Homo sapiens: one gene and its partners. The protein of the gene in region 2 purifies or fractionates together with the protein of the main gene of each other region. This does not show direct contact. Each region holds a gene or a part of one and is shown on either strand. Other genes may lie near its edges.

The links. Proteins that work in one complex are often made in the same cells at the same time.
Region 1: the proteins of PNPT1 (region 2) and GFM1 fractionate together in Homo sapiens (co-fractionation; one large-scale study listed by BioGRID). This does not show direct contact.
Region 3: the proteins of PNPT1 (region 2) and PDE12 purify together in Homo sapiens (affinity purification with mass spectrometry; one large-scale study listed by BioGRID and IntAct). This does not show direct contact.
Region 4: the proteins of PNPT1 (region 2) and LRFN2 purify together in Homo sapiens (affinity purification with mass spectrometry; one large-scale study listed by BioGRID and IntAct). This does not show direct contact.

Annotation. Positions count from the first base shown.
Region 1 is NC_000003.12:158,643,236-158,647,326, reverse strand, and holds the start of GFM1 (elongation factor G, mitochondrial), read right to left. Parts: upstream 2,801-4,091; 5' UTR 2,693-2,800; coding exon 2,612-2,692; exon of another isoform or gene 2,446-2,611; intron 1,699-2,445; coding exon 1,546-1,698; intron 1,163-1,545; coding exon 1,030-1,162; intron 585-1,029; coding exon 380-584; intron 1-379. UniProt on the Homo sapiens protein: Mitochondrial GTPase that catalyzes the GTP-dependent ribosomal translocation step during translation elongation.
Region 2 is NC_000002.12:55,645,345-55,648,844, forward strand, and holds part of PNPT1 (polyribonucleotide nucleotidyltransferase 1, mitochondrial precursor), read right to left. Parts: intron 2,110-3,500; coding exon 2,003-2,109; exon of another isoform or gene 1,929-2,002; intron 1,143-1,928; coding exon 1,071-1,142; intron 979-1,070; coding exon 915-978; intron 89-914; coding exon 5-88; intron 1-4. UniProt on the Homo sapiens protein: RNA-binding protein implicated in numerous RNA metabolic processes. Catalyzes the phosphorolysis of single-stranded polyribonucleotides processively in the 3'-to-5' direction. Mitochondrial intermembrane factor with RNA-processing exoribonulease activity.
Region 3 is NC_000003.12:57,555,025-57,559,073, reverse strand, and holds the start of PDE12 (2',5'-phosphodiesterase 12 isoform 1 precursor), read right to left. Parts: upstream 2,801-4,049; 5' UTR 2,695-2,800; coding exon 1,387-2,694; intron 1-1,386. UniProt on the Homo sapiens protein: Enzyme that cleaves 2',5'-phosphodiester bond linking adenosines of the 5'-triphosphorylated oligoadenylates, triphosphorylated oligoadenylates referred as 2-5A modulates the 2-5A system. Degrades triphosphorylated 2-5A to produce AMP and ATP.
Region 4 is NC_000006.12:40,433,865-40,437,364, forward strand, and holds part of LRFN2 (leucine-rich repeat and fibronectin type-III domain-containing protein 2 precursor), read right to left. Parts: intron 1-3,500. UniProt on the Homo sapiens protein: Promotes neurite outgrowth in hippocampal neurons. Enhances the cell surface expression of 2 NMDA receptor subunits GRIN1 and GRIN2A. May play a role in redistributing DLG4 to the cell periphery.

The DNA of each region.
Region 1 (4,091 bases), on a different chromosome or scaffold from region 2:
AATTAAAATGCTTCAAGGAAAAATTAAAACCAAAGATGATCTTTTGTCTAAATAAAACACAAGGTATTTTTAGAATCTAGATTATAACTTCTCTCATAATAGCAAAACAGTATAAACGGTCAGACTGTTTTCTGAATTCATCTTCAACCTCCCTAGAATTTAAGTAATATTGTCCCCATTTTAGAGATAAGGTAGTTGATGAGATCATACCACAAGCCAATTTACTAAAATCAGTGTTCCACTTACTAACTCACATAAATATATTTAAAAAACTAAATTTAAGAATAAAGTTTAATGACAGTGAATTAATCACCCTTTTGGATATAAGGTTTGCTGTCTAGATCATCACATCCTCTTTGTTTATTCTAAGGCTCATTACCTCATTTGCTGCAGGGCCCTGGCTGGGTTGGAGCCCATTCGGTCCAATTTGTTAATAAAAGTTAGAAACGGAACGTTGTAGCGCTTCATCTGACGATTGACAGTCATGGTCTGGCACTGTACCCCTCCAACAGCACAGAGAACAAGGACTGCACCATCCAACACTCTCAGGGCCCTTTCCACTTCTATTGTGAAGTCCACATGCCCTGAATAAGATGAAGTATGAGAGGGTCTTAAAGAGCAATCTGAATTTTTAATATATGCACTATTAGAAGTTTTTGTATCTCTGCTCATCACATAAGTCTTCTAATAAGAATGTAGATTCCTGAGCTCACCAATACTATTCACCAACCCTTAGGTGCAGGGCCTGGCAAGATCACTTCAAGAAAATACTAGGGCACAGGCACCTTTAGAATCAGCTAGAATATGTAAAAGGCAAGAATCTGCCTACTCACAATTTACTTGCACAAATTTTCAAGAAAACTACATAAGGATGAAGTGCTCTAGGTCCTAAGTTAGTCTTCTTTAATAGGAATTCAGTGTTACACTTTTGAGTATTTGACAATCAAAAACTAATTGGGTCACAGTAAGAGAAAGAACCAAATGTGCTTTTGCCAAAGAAGCTGCAATAAAACCAAGAATCCAACTCACCAGGAGTATCTATAATGTTAATATTGACATCTTTCCACATGGTGTAAGTGGCTGCTGACTGAATAGTGATTCCTCTTTGTCTCTCTAGTTCCATGGAATCCATGACAGCACCAACTCCATCTTTACCTTTCACCTAAACACAAGCACAGCAATTCAGACTTTCTCTGTCCCTGCATTCCAAGAAGGAAAGAAATCTTAACTGAAATGGAAACAGTTGCCAGGTGCAGTGGCTCATGCCTATAATCCCAGCACTGTGGGAGACTGAGGCAGGATGATAATTTGAGCCCAAGAGTTTGAGACCAGCCTGAGCAACAAAGTGAGACCTCTTCTATAAAAAATAAAAATAAAACCAGAACACAGATACTTAACTTAAGCAACTTTCAGATAAGCCTAACTGTCAAAAGTCCGCTGTTACCATTGTTTTAATCTTTCAGGTTTATAAGCTTTATTAAATAATAGCAACAAAACAATTAAAATCTGGTTCTAATTAATCCGGAATCAACCGTGAATATATACCTCATGCATCTTTGCAATTCTGCCAGTGTAGTAAAGGACTCGTTCTGTTAATGTAGTTTTCCCAGAATCAATGTGAGCTGAGATTCCAATATTTCGTATTTTTTCATTAGGAATCACCCCTGATGAAGACCATCGGCAGGCCTTCCAATTAACCTGAAAAAAATACGAGAGCTCAATTCTATGCACCTTTTATAAGAGAGAACAACAGACAATTAAAAGGAGTATGGTGGACATTATTCCTCCAAGAAATCTCACTGGATATGAGATAGCTTGAGAAAGGCACCAGGGGAAACCTTTAAGCCTGGAACTCTTGTAATCAGAGGACAGACTTCAAAACAAGACAGTAAAGACGTATTCTTTTAAAATTAATTAATGAATAAGTTAAATTTAATTAAAATGGGAGACACTTTTTACTGCAGATTTGAAAATACACACTGGGGCAGATAAAATCACAAAGACAGCTCCAAAAAATACTTTAATAGAAAATACAAATTTTAGCTTAAATTTAACTTAATTTTTTTCCCTTTCTCCTTTATTGTAGTTCACAGATGACAAATATGTTTGAGAACTTATATGCTCTATGCAGTGATGCTAGTAGCTCCAAGACAGCCCCCAAAGATTTCCAATTCCCTCCAAACAAAAACAATTCATGAAGCTTGTTTTAACTTTACTCTGGTGGCAGGGGATGGGGATCCCTATTAGATGGAATGAAGATACAATATAAACCTTTCCCTATAGGACTGCACATCCAAAATGCACAATTATTCACGGGAAAAGAGAGGCAAAAAAAAAAAAAAAAAACCTTAGAAAAGGTGGATAAAATATCAAAGTATCTGAGTGACAGACACTTTTAGTTGATTAAACCCTAGGGATACCAGAGAGCGAAACAAACGAGCTAACGAGCTAATGTGCAGGCACCGAGGTGCTTTTCAGCACTGACGAGCGACTGCCAGTATTCGGAGCTGTCAGTCATGAGGACCCAGGGGGTGTCACGGCCTTCCATTGCCCAGAAGGGATCACAAGGTTCCGGGAATGGTCCCGATTTAGCCTCTCTATGCTCCGGTACCTGCTTCCTCTGCCAGCCTAGGGAGGCGGGGGCCCTTCCGCGCCCCAGAGCCGCGACGGCTGCAGCTCCCAGGAGTCTCATGGCAAGCGCAGAGCACGCGTCAAAGTCCCGTGGCGCCGGGTGGGTTCAGCTGCCGGTAACGCACCGGGAAGCGGTCAAAGTCACGCCGGCAGCCAATGTTGTAAGAGCACTTCCGGGGCAAAGGACGCGAGGAAAAAGAGAGTGAGGAAAAGAAAGAAGAGCAACTGGATTGGAGGCGGAGCAGTGCCTACGCTGCTCGCGCGCCGTCTGCCGACTTGGAAGAGAAAGTGCAATCGCTTTGCGGAGCTAAAGAAGTGTTTGCTCCCAGTAAGACGGCATAGGTATATGGGTGAGGGAAGGGAGTCCTTTTGTCTTCGTCTTCTTTTTTAAATATTACCTCTGTATGAAGATACAGAATTTAAACATGGTTGTTAGGCCTATAAAGCAATGTGGAGAAATGTATATAACAATTTAAGTAGAAAAGAGCAAAATTGTCTATTACAAATATTAATAGGTATATATATGACATGGCCTGAAAAAGAACGTGGACAAATTATAGTGAATGAACTATCAATTACAATTACAAATACTTTTCCTCATGTCAAAATGTTATTTGTTATTGTTCGATGTCAGACATTTCATGTCCTGTCCATGTGGAAGACTGCATCCTTGACCATTCTGCTTGGATGTGTTAAGAGGCATGTTGAACCTAACAGGTCCAAAACTGAGCTTCGGATCTTCTTCCCCAAACCTTCCACAGTCTTATCCATCTCATAAATGTAAACTTTAGTGATTCTAGCCAAAAATATTAGTCGCTTTGACACCATGCTGTGACATCTCCGGTCTAATCAGTCAGCATATCCTGTAAGCTCTACTTTCAAAAAGACATCCAGGGCCGGACGCGGTGGCTCACACCTGTAGTCCCAGCACTTTGGAAGGCCGAGGCGGGCAGATCACGAGGTCATGAGATGGAGACCATCCTGGCTAACACAGTGAAACCCCGTCTCTACTAAAAATACAAAAAAAAATTAGCCGGGCGCGGTGGCGGGCGCCTGTAGTCCCAGCTACTCGGGAGGCTGAGGCAGGAGAATGGTGTGAACCCAGGAGGCGGAGCTTGCAGTGAGCCGAGATCACGCCACTGCACTCCACCCTGGGTGACAGAGCGAGTCTCAAAAAAAAAAAAAAAAAAAGAAAATCCAGAACTTACTTCTCCCCACCTCTCAGTACTGCCGTTTCTGGAGGGAACTATTGTAATAGCCTTGTAACCGATCTCACTGCTTCTATCCTTGCTGTTGTCAGTGGGCCGGTTCAGGTGCTTGACTTCACCACACAAAAGAATTTGAAAGCAAGTACAAAGTAAGAGTAGGCAAAAAAGTTTATTGTAAACCAAAAGTACACTCTGAGAGGCAGAGTGGGCTGCTCAGAAGAGAGACAGACAGCCTTTAGTATCTCTAGGGAA
Region 2 (3,500 bases):
TTACCTACAACAGGTCCATTTTCTTTTCTAGATGCTCGAGGTTTTGAAATAGTTTTGTTCATGATCTGTAATATCTCCTTTTTTGCCACTAGAAGAGAAAAACACAAAAATTATAACTACATAAAACAAATATGATCTGAAATACTGTACTCTTAGTTTTCACGGTATACAATCTAAACCCTGTAGCTTAATAATTGAAGCTTTCCACATCCCTATTACCTTGAAAATTCACTCATATTCTCTTCTCCAAAAATCCCATCTTAAATAGAGTTGTTTAATTTGTAAAAATTGAAATTTCACTGGTAACCCACTTTGGCGTGTATTCATGTGTCCCAAAAACTTAGTTGTGCTTCTTCTTTTTTTAAAATAGATATGGGATCTCACTACGTTGCCCAGGCTGGTCTTGAACTCCTGGGGCTCAAGCAATCTTCCTGCCTTGGCCTCCCAAAGTGCTAGGATGAGCCACCATGCCATGCCTGGCTACTTAGTACTTCTTTTTTTTTGAGACATTTTCCCTCTGTCACCCAGGCTGGCGCGCAATGGCATGATCTCGGCTCACTGTAACCTCTGCCTCCTGGGCTCAAGCGATTCTCTTGTCTCAGCCTCCTGAGTAGCTGGGATTACAGGTATGCACCACCATGCCCGGCTAATTTTTGTACTTTTAGTAGAGACAGGGTTTCACCATGTTGGCCAGGCTGGTCTCGAACTCCTGACCTGAAGTGATCTGCCTGCCTCGGCCTCTCAAAGTGCTGGGATTACAGACATGAGCCACCACACCTGGCCAGTACTTCTTGATCTAAGTTATATGAAATTCCACTTTTTAAAGCAATATTTTATAATAAGCCTAATGAGAACTATAGTTCCCATTAGCAAAGTGGAAAAGAATGAAGGGAGAATCAAGCACACTAGCTCACCTGAAGCTTGTTGAATAGCCTCCATCACAATTTTTATTGGTATTCCAGGTAATTTAATATCAGCCTAATATGGAAAAGTCAAACAATTATATAAATATTGACTCATGGCATTATTTAAATGTTACAAAAATGAAACAAAATGGGTTTTAAAAATACCTGTAATGCAGTTATTCCTTTATTAGTGCCAGCTATTTTGAAGTCCATGTCACCATTGTAATCTTCAATTCCCTTCAGGAATTTAAAAAGTTATGACATAGTTTTAAACAAAAACAAAAGTCAACATATTCACTGTAGAAACATTTCAAAAAACAGCTTTAGAAGTAAACCATATCCTAAGTCCAAACACAAAGCAATGTTTTCTACATTAACTACCACTTCCAATTTGTGACTTTTTAAGCTACAATTATTTTCACCAGAAACATCATTTTATTTTTAGATCATTCCTTTCCCTCATAAATGCCTGAGAATGAATTTATGCTCATCCTAAAGTGAGTCATTATGAATACTTACACTGTGTAAGTATTACTGCAATACTTAAGGGTAAGTATTACTATTTTTTTAAAGTAATCATTTTATTTTATTTTATTTTACTTATTTTGAGACACAGTCTTGCTCTGTTGCCCAGGATGGAGTGCAGTGGCACGATCTTGGCTCACTGCAACCTCTGCCTCCCGGGTTCAAGCAATTCTGCCTCAGCCTGCCAAGTAGATGGGATTACAGGTGTGTGCCACCATGCCCAGGCTAATTTTTGTATTTTTAGTAGAGATGGAGTTTTGCCACATTAGCCAGACTGGTCTGGAACTCCTGACTTCCCAAAGTGCTGGGATTACAGGCATGAGTCACTGTGCCTGGCCTATTACTATTAATATAATATCTATTTTAAATTCATATCCTATAAGATACAAGGTGAACATGCAGAGGAGGAAGGGAAGAACAAGTACCTGTTCTTCAAATACTAGCATTCTTCTAAGCATACGCTAGGTGCAAAGTACATATAGTCTTCACCATTATTTGTTTTTATCTTTTAATTTTTATTTATTTATTTTTAGTCTTCATTATTAAATATTTGAAACCGAGAATATACTTGCCAAAATATCTGTCAGCAAACGATAATCTTCTATTTCACCCTTCTCAGGATCGGTTTTGGTGACCAATCCTATTGCTACGCCTGCAACAGCAGATGAAATTGGAACCCCTATAATTGGGAAAAAGAACAACTGTGGGTAATGTGTACATGAGCCTAAAACAAATATTTATCTATCAATTTTTTTTTTTTTTTGAGAGGGAGTCTCGGTCTGTTGCCCAGACTGGAGTGCAGTGGCATGATCTTGGCTCACTGTAGCCTCTGCTTCCTGGGTTCAAGCAATCCTCCCACCTCAGCCTCCCCTATAGCTGGGATTATAGGCACCCGCCAACACGCCTAGCTAATTTGCTTGTATTTTTAGTGGAGATGGGGTTTCAACCATGTTGGCCCTGTTGGTCTTGAACTCCTGACCTCAGGTGATCTGCCAGCCTCAGCCTCCCAAAGCGCTGGGATTACAAGCGTGAGCCACCGCGCCCAGCAGACATTTACTTTTAATGTAAGTGGATATTGTTGCCTAAATTGACAATCACCGAAGCTGAGTTGGAAGTCTTAAGAGGTCATCTGACTACTTCGTTTGTTTTTGAACATATAATAAAGTTCCCTAAAACAATGTAAACAAGTACTATATCCAGCAAAAACTTCTCTAACAATAGCAAACTTTATAACTTTTAAATTATCCGTTGGTTTGCTTTTTTGCTTCAGGTGTCTTATTTTCTTTTTGTTGGAAAGTAAGCATCTATTTGGTAAATTCTTCCAGCCTGAACTCCTCAGTTTACCTCCCCATGGCAGCTAACATTAGTGTATCCTCCTAGAAAATTTCTGTGCACAAGTATAAATGTAAATATAATCTTTTGTTTTCTTTACTCGTGGCGGCAGACTGTATGCATTTACTGTTCTGCACCTTGCCTTTTTCACTTAATAACATGTCTTGGATATTGACACATACCACCACACAAAGCTCTACTTTATTCCTTTGAATAGTTTTAGTACTCCCTGTATGTTTTACAAGTCACACACAGAAGTGCGATTGCTGAGTCAAAAGGTATGTGCATTTACGTTTGTTAGACTGTCAAACTGCCTTCTAAAGACATAGCATTTTAAACTTTTACCAGTGGTGTAAGAAGGTATATGCTACTCTATATTCTTATTAATTCTTGTCAAATCTTTTGATTTTTCTCAATTTAAAGTGTAAAAAATGGTTATTTTAAATCTGACTTGTTTTTTATGACTGAGGTTGAAAACTATTTCATGTTCATAAACCTATTTATATGTCTTATTTTGAGAACTCCCTGTTCATGGCCTTCAACACTTTTCTACTTGGTTGGCAGTCTTTTTATTACTGATTTTCTTTCAATATGGACAGAGCTTTATTAAAATGTAAAGATAAAATATTATGTTTAATAACATATAAATAAAATATTTTATTTCCTAGTTCGTTGACTTTGCTTATGGTCATTAGTTTTCTGTGTAGGATTTTTAGTTTACGTAATCATGGTTTCTGG
Region 3 (4,049 bases), on a different chromosome or scaffold from region 2:
AATTTTTTTGTATTTGTAGTAGAGACGGGGTTTCATCGTGTTAGCCAGGATGGTCTCGATTTCCTGACTTGTGATCCACCCGCCTCGGCCTCCCAAAGTGCTGGGATTACAGGCATAAGCCACCAGGCCCGGCCTGTTTTTTATCTAAGACTAATGGCGAACTAACGTTTTCTTCCATCTCCTTCCCTTGATGAACTAGGACTGCAGTCATGAAATCCAACTTAAAGTTTCAGGATCTACATGACTAGGTTCAGTGTAACATGTTTTAATAATAGTCCAATATAGGCCGGGCGTGGTGGCTCACGCCTGTAATCCCAGCACTTTGGGAGGCTGAGGCGGGCGGATCACGAGGTCAGGAGATCGAGACCATCCTGGCTAACATGGTGAAACCCCAAACCCCGTCTCTACTAAAAAAATTAGCCGGGCGTGGTGGCACGCGCCTCTAGTCCCAGCTACTAGGGAGGCTGAGGCAGGAGAATCGCTTGAACCCGGGAGGCGGAAGTTGCGGTGAGCCGATATCGCGCCACCGTACTCCAGCCTAGGTGACAGAGACTCCGTCTCAAAATAATAATAATAATAATAATAGTCCAATATATAAAGCTAGTAATATAAACAATACATTTTACATGACAACACTTTGACTGGAGAAAGTGTTTTCAAGCGTAAGCACAGGCTTTGGAGTCAGGCAGACCTGGGTTTGAATACTCATTTCACCATTTATAGCAATGTGACCTGCAAAAAGATGCTTTTCTAGCCAGTTTCGTACTGGCAGTCACTGACAATACCATCCACCTCATGGGCTGTTGTGTGGAGTCAATTAAATGATCTTATAAGGTGCATGAAACACCTTAGGTACTTAAAAAATGGTAGCTGCTCTTCTTATTATGAACAAAATCAATTACTTAAAAACTTTAACACAAGAATGACATCTATAAAATGGGAATAGGGGACTTACTGTGAAGATTCAATGAGCCTATGATTTAAAAAAAACTAGTTTATATTTATGGAGCACTTCAAAACACACCACGCTCTTAAATTTTAAGTACTTTAAAATGTGCCAGAACAGTGCTTGGCAAGTAGTAAAAAACATTAGCTACTATTGTTCTTGCATTTAGCGTGTGTCCCTCTCGCTAGATTGTAAGCACTGTAAAAGTCCCTGCTAGTCTTGTTCAAGGCAACCTGCAGTATGGCAGGCACACCAGAGGTGTTCAAAAAATATCTGCTGAATGAATGAAGAGTAAACTTTGTGCTGAAGATACAAGGGCAAACACACCTTTCAACAATATCTGGATACTTTCATCGCACTTTTAACCCCCACCTCATTCCTCGCCTTCCTGGCCCCTAAAAGTGGGACAGTATGTGAAGAGACGGGCGGAACTACTTTACCTGAAGAACAGAAGATCTCTGGAGCACCTTCTCCTGCGCTGATGGGTACAAAACTAGTTTCTCCAGCAGTTCTTTGTGAAGTGGGTCGGACTCGAGGGCTTCGTAGAATGAAATGTCATGCTGGCTAAGAAGGCTGAACTTAGACTTTCGGTAGAAAGTGGCCAGGCCTTCGTGCTGCTTGATTCGAAACACCCCCTCGAGCCCGAAGGCCTCTAGGGCGGGTACCAAGCTGTCAGAAAACACTGCGCGGTCAACCTCCTGCAAACAGATGACATCGGCGTTGTAGCCGGTGAGTTCCTTCTGGATAAGGTTCTGGCGGTAGTCGAGCTCCAGGGCGTAGGGGGCACAGTATGGGTACAGAACCGTTCGCGAGAACTCAGTCTGCGCGTACGTGTCTGCCAGGATGTTGTAAGAGACAGTGCGGATGAGAGCGTCCTCAGTCACCTTCTTCGTGTAGAGATGCCGGTGGTCAAAAGTGCAGGTGCCAGGCCCAGCCTCTACCACACACACACTTTCCAACTCCCGGCTGTGCCCAAAGCGCTGCCCATCGCCTGGGGTGCAGTGAAGCTTGAGCCTTAGCCCGATGTCGGCATTGGACGGGGTGTAGACACGCTCCTCCACATCAGTCTCAGTCCAAGAAGAAGAAGGTGAGGAGGGAGACAATGACGAGGGGACACCGACCTCGGGCTCCGCCGCTCCGGGCTTGGCTTCCTTATACCAGCGGAAAAGGGAGCTGGCGGGATCCCCAAATTCGAGGCTGAGTTTGGGGCACACAGGGAACCCGGCCATGATGTAGCGCGGCAACTGCAGTTCGGTGAAGGCGGGCGGGTTGCGCTCCACCTTGTACTTAACATCGCCGATCTGCAGCACCGCGCCGTCTTGCCAGGCATCCACGTTGAGCACGTCCTCAGCCACTGCCTCTTCCCGGTAGTACAGCTTCACCACGGGCTCGCAGAACACAGCCGGCTCAGGCCCCGGCCCTGAACAGGCCGCACCGCCGCTAGCATTCGGCCGGCTCTTCCTGCTCTTCTTGGCGGCGGCCGCCTTAGCGTGACCCTTTAGGGCATTGGTAGCGATGCGGCTGAGGACTCGACCCAGCGGCTCGCTCTGGTCGCGCTGCATGTTCTTGTGGCTACCATCAGCCAAAGCGAATGACAGGCTCAGCTTGGGTTCCGAAGGTACGCAGCGCACTACAGCGCGCTCCATCGCTCCCGCCGCTGTCTGGCTCCCCGCTTCAGCCCGGCTCAGCTTCTCCACCGCCGTCCGGATCACCCGAAGCGCGGCGCGGGCGCCTGGGAGCCTCCACATGAACCTGGTGGCCTAGCGGTCGACAAGACCCGCGGCCGATCAGCGGCCTACTGTCAGGTGGAGCTGAGGAGCCGAGGCCGCCGGCTTTGACTCATTCAGATCTCGCGACTTCCGGCTAGCGAAGAGAGGGAATGAAGTGCTTCCGACTCGCACTTTCGCCTAGCGCGTGGGCACGCATGTCTGTAATACTCTGAAGATTAATTTTTACCTACACGATAGGTCAGAATTATAGGGAAGTGAAGAAAATATAAAGGTGTCAGAGGAAAATACTAGATTCCACGGTTTTGTCGAAAGTGCATGCTGGTGACGGGAGGGCATGCCCTCCAAGCCGGAAGTGGATAGGGTGGTGTCACGTGTTCCGCTTCGTTGGAGGAGGTGGACACCTGTCTTGGAATCTTGGCTGACCAGCTCTCCTCCCTGCGCCCGGGACTGGACTGCGCTAGGACGTGGAGGCCTCCACCCGGATTGCGAGCTTTACTCGCAGTGTGGAAGGTGTTGCCCATTTCATCTCCACAGCTTTGCCGACCCTGATCGCTCGTTTCGGTGGCCTGGTGGGTTCACCCCAGGCTGAGCCAGCGCCTACGCACCTCTGAGCAGAGCCTTTGTGGTAGTTAACAACGAACGATATACAATAACTCCGTTTAGTGAGCGCAGACTATGCGAGAAACGCTACACACACTATCTTATTTAAGCCTCATAGTTCTTATGAGGTAGGTCTCTTTATCCATCGCTTTACAGATGCAGAGTCCCGAGATATTACCTGCTCAGGGTCACACAACTATTAATTGGCAGAAAGAAATAGTACTGACAAACTGCGGAAGGCTGTTTGTTATTTTTTATTAGAGACAGGTTGTCACTTTGACGCCCAAGCTGGAGTGCAGTGGCCTGATCATAGCTCACTGCCCCCTCGAACTCCAGGGCTCGTGCGATCCTCCCGCCTAACCCTCTCAAGTACAAACAGGCAAGAGCCACCCAGTGTTTATTTTTAGTTAGTAAATAGGAAGACTCTATTTAGTTACTACATTTAACAAATAAAATTACAGGATCTCAGTTAAATTCAATTTCAGATAAGGAATAATAATGGGGCATATATTAAGAAATAGTTGTTTATCTGTTTATTTTATTTTTTTATTTTTTAGGTAGGGCCTTGCTCTTTCACCCAAGCTGGAGTGCAGCTGTGCGATCTTGGCTTACTGCAACTTCGGCTTCCAGAGTTCAAGCGATTCTCGTGCCTCAGCCTCCCAAGTAGCTGGGACTACAGGCACACACCACCACGCCCAGCTAATTTTTGTATTTTAGTAGAGAAGGGCTTCACCATGTTTCCTGGGCTGGTCGCGAACTCCTGGCCTCAAGCA
Region 4 (3,500 bases), on a different chromosome or scaffold from region 2:
TGGACCCTCACATACATCAGCTCTTTTGGGCTTTAGGAATCCCCTTCAGAAGGAAGGGATTATCTATACACAGACGAGGATTGATCATGGCCTCAGAGCCTCCTTTGGATCTTTACTCACAAGTTACCTTCTCCCAGAGGCCTTCCCAGATGCTCTTCCATGATCATCCCTGCCCCGCCCCGCTGCATAGCCCTCTTCTCTGCTCTGTATTTTCTCCTTGCAACTAATCCCTATCTATGTTTTAACTATTTGTCTTCTTTATAATTTGTTCTTTTGCTCTAGCCGTAAAGCCCCAAGAAGAAGGGACCTCTTTTCATTCACCACTGCATGCCCAAAGCCTAAAGCGCTGCCTGGCACATAGTAGGTGCTTTTACAAGAATGGCTATCTAAGAAAGAAAGGAAGAGAAATCTGACTCAAGTCTTTGCGCCTCCAAATGTCAACAGTTTCCTCACTATCCCATGTTGTACTAAATGTGGCCTTATTGATACAGTGCTTCTTGGGGCTTTACTGATAGAGCAAAATGATAGCCAGTTGAGTTGGACTTTTGGAAAATCATGCAGCACACTGATTGTGTAGCATTATGCAGACCAGCATTTCTCAAATTGCCTTTTTTTTTCTTTTTTTTTTTTTTGAGACGGAGTCTCACTCTGTCTCCCAGGGGAGCGCAGTGGCGCAATCTTGGCTCACTGCAACCTCTGCCTCTGTGGTTCCAGTGATTCTCCTGCCTCAGCCTCCCAAATAGCTGGGACTACAGGCACACACCACCATGCCCAGCTAACTTTTTGTATTTTTAGTAGAGACAGGGTTTCACCATGTTGGCTGGGCTGTTCTCAAACTCCTGACCTCAGGTGATCCACCTGCCCCGGCCTCCCAAAGTGCTGGGATTACAAGCGTGAGCCACCGTGCCCAGCCCCTCAAATTGCCTGCTAAACATACTAATTAGAGTTCTGCAAAAATGGCTTCTAAGGCCAGTAAGGTGGGGAAGCATTGCCTACTCTTGCTTTCTCTCACAATAGCTCTGTACGCATGAGCAAGTTTAGAAGAATTGAGAAATTCTGCTGCAGTGAAACACTAAATTAATGTTTAAGTTTGCATTACTCCTATTTCTTTTTACTATAAAGACATCCCTTTCTTGAGCAATGGTTTTACATATATATATATATATATATATATATATATATATATATAGAGAGAGAGAGAGAGAGAGAGAGAGAGAGAGAGAGAGACAGAGAGATAATATATATTATATATTTTATATATATATTATGTATTTTATATATATATATACAGAGAGAGAGAGAGAGAGAGAGAGAGAGACAGATTCTTGCTCTGTCACCCAGGCTGGAGTGCAGTGGCACAATCATAATTCATGACAGCCTGAAACTCCTGGGCTCAAGTGATTCTCCCACCTTGGCCTCCTGAGTAACTACAGGCACTTGCCATCATGCCTGGCTAATTATTTTTATTTTTATTTTTGTAGAGTCAGATTTTGCTATGTTGCCCAGGCTGGTCTCGAACTTCTGGCTTCAAGTGATCCTCCTGCTTCAGCCTCCCCAAATGTTGGATTTACAGGCATGAGCCACCTCGCCTGGCCAATATCTTGTGGAAGTAGAGCTCTATAACTCCCAGTTTGAGGAGCACAGATGCAGAAAAAACTAGCTTATTTTATTTTTTGTTTCCTATTTTTTTTTGAGACGGAGTCTGGCTCTGTCACCCAGGCTGGAGTACAGTGGCATGATCTCAGCTCACTGCAACCTCTGCCTCCCAGGTTCACGCCATTCTCCTGCCTCAGCCTCCCTAGTAGCTGGGACTACAGGTGCCCGCCACCACACCCGGCTAATTTTTTGTGTTTTTAGTAGAGACAGGGTTTCACTGTGTTAGCCAAGATGGTCTCGATCTCCTGACCTTGTGATCCGCCCGTCTTGGCCTCCTGTAATAGCTTATTTTTTTTAAAAAAGATACGTAATATATTGAAAAATCTATTCCTATCATACACTTTATTATGTATATTTGAATTCCATTATTGCGCCTCTTTAAGGGTAAATCTCCTACCTGAGACCCTTCAAGGGCCAGAGGCTTGCCCTGTATTTTTTCTGGAGAGAGCATCACTGTGAAGTAGAAATATGATGTGAGCCAAAAATGTGACTTCAAATTTCCTAGTGGCCATATTTTTTAAAAAAGTAAAAAGAAACAGGTGAAATTAATTTTGATAATGTATTTTATATAACTAGCTATATCAAAATATTATTTCAATATATCCTCAATATAATTATTAATGAGATGGCTAACTTTTTTATTTTACAAACTCTTCAAAATCTGGTGCGTATTTTACCCTCAGAGCACATTTCAAATGCTCATTAGCCATATGTGGCTATTGGCTACCATACTGGGTAGTGCTGTGAACTGTAGCTCACAGACCAAATATATCCTGTCACCTGTTTTTGTAAATAAAATTTTATTAGAACACAGCCATGCTTATTTGTTTACATATCGCATGTGGCTTCCTTTGTGCCACCATGGCAGAGGTGAGCCATTGCTGCATATAACACATGGCACTGAAGCCTAAAATATTTACTATCTTGTCCTTTACAGAAAGAGTTTGCTGACCTCTGTTCTATAGGATATGTGTTTTTTTTTTTCATCTTCATCAAGGGCACCTTCATTAAAAGCCTTGGCCAAAGTGCCGAGTTCCACACAGCTCTGCCCTGGCCTCCCCATGAGCACCTGCCCACCCTGCCAGTCCCTGTTCTCACCAAGCTCCCACCTAAGGTAGACCAGCTTCACCTTACCCAGGCCCCACCAGGTCACAGGTGTTGATACATGGAAGCTTTCCACCTGCCACCTTTCCAACTTGCTCTGTGCTCAAAGGTGTTCTGGCCTTCTTGGTCTCTACTTGCTGGGGCCTCATAGAACAAAATGAGGATCTTCTCCACTTGCATTGAGTCTTGAGTTTTCTAGCTACACCTCCCTGTGACTCATTGTGGTCACAGAATGAAGAAGGCTGACGTTTTTCTGGCTACGGCATCTGCTCAAATATAGTTGAGTGGTATTCTCTATACCCACGAGAGCACATGAACAGCCACAGCCACATCCAAGGATGTCCCTTGCTAATTAATCAAGAGGTGGTTGAGTGTGTGTGTGTGTGTATGTGTATGGGGTAGTGTTCTATGGCCCCATGAGAAAGGCCATCTCTCTTATGAGCTCTTATCAGTAAATGCATCAGTGTTCTAAGGCTAAACAGCACTTCCCAACATTTTCAAGTCCTGGCACACAGGAAATGATATTTGTCAGGTGCCCCTGGGCCCAGGGCCAAGGCTATTCATGGCCTGTGCTGGATATCTTCCACTGTCCCTCCAGATCCTCTCTCCACCCTCTCCCCGCCAGCTCTGCATTCTGGGAGGCTGATCCATATGGACCGCATCTGTGCAATATAGATGGACTGCCTCCGCCATCCTTTGTGCCCTTCTACCCTTGGCTGTGTTGCCTGCCCTCTGGTAGA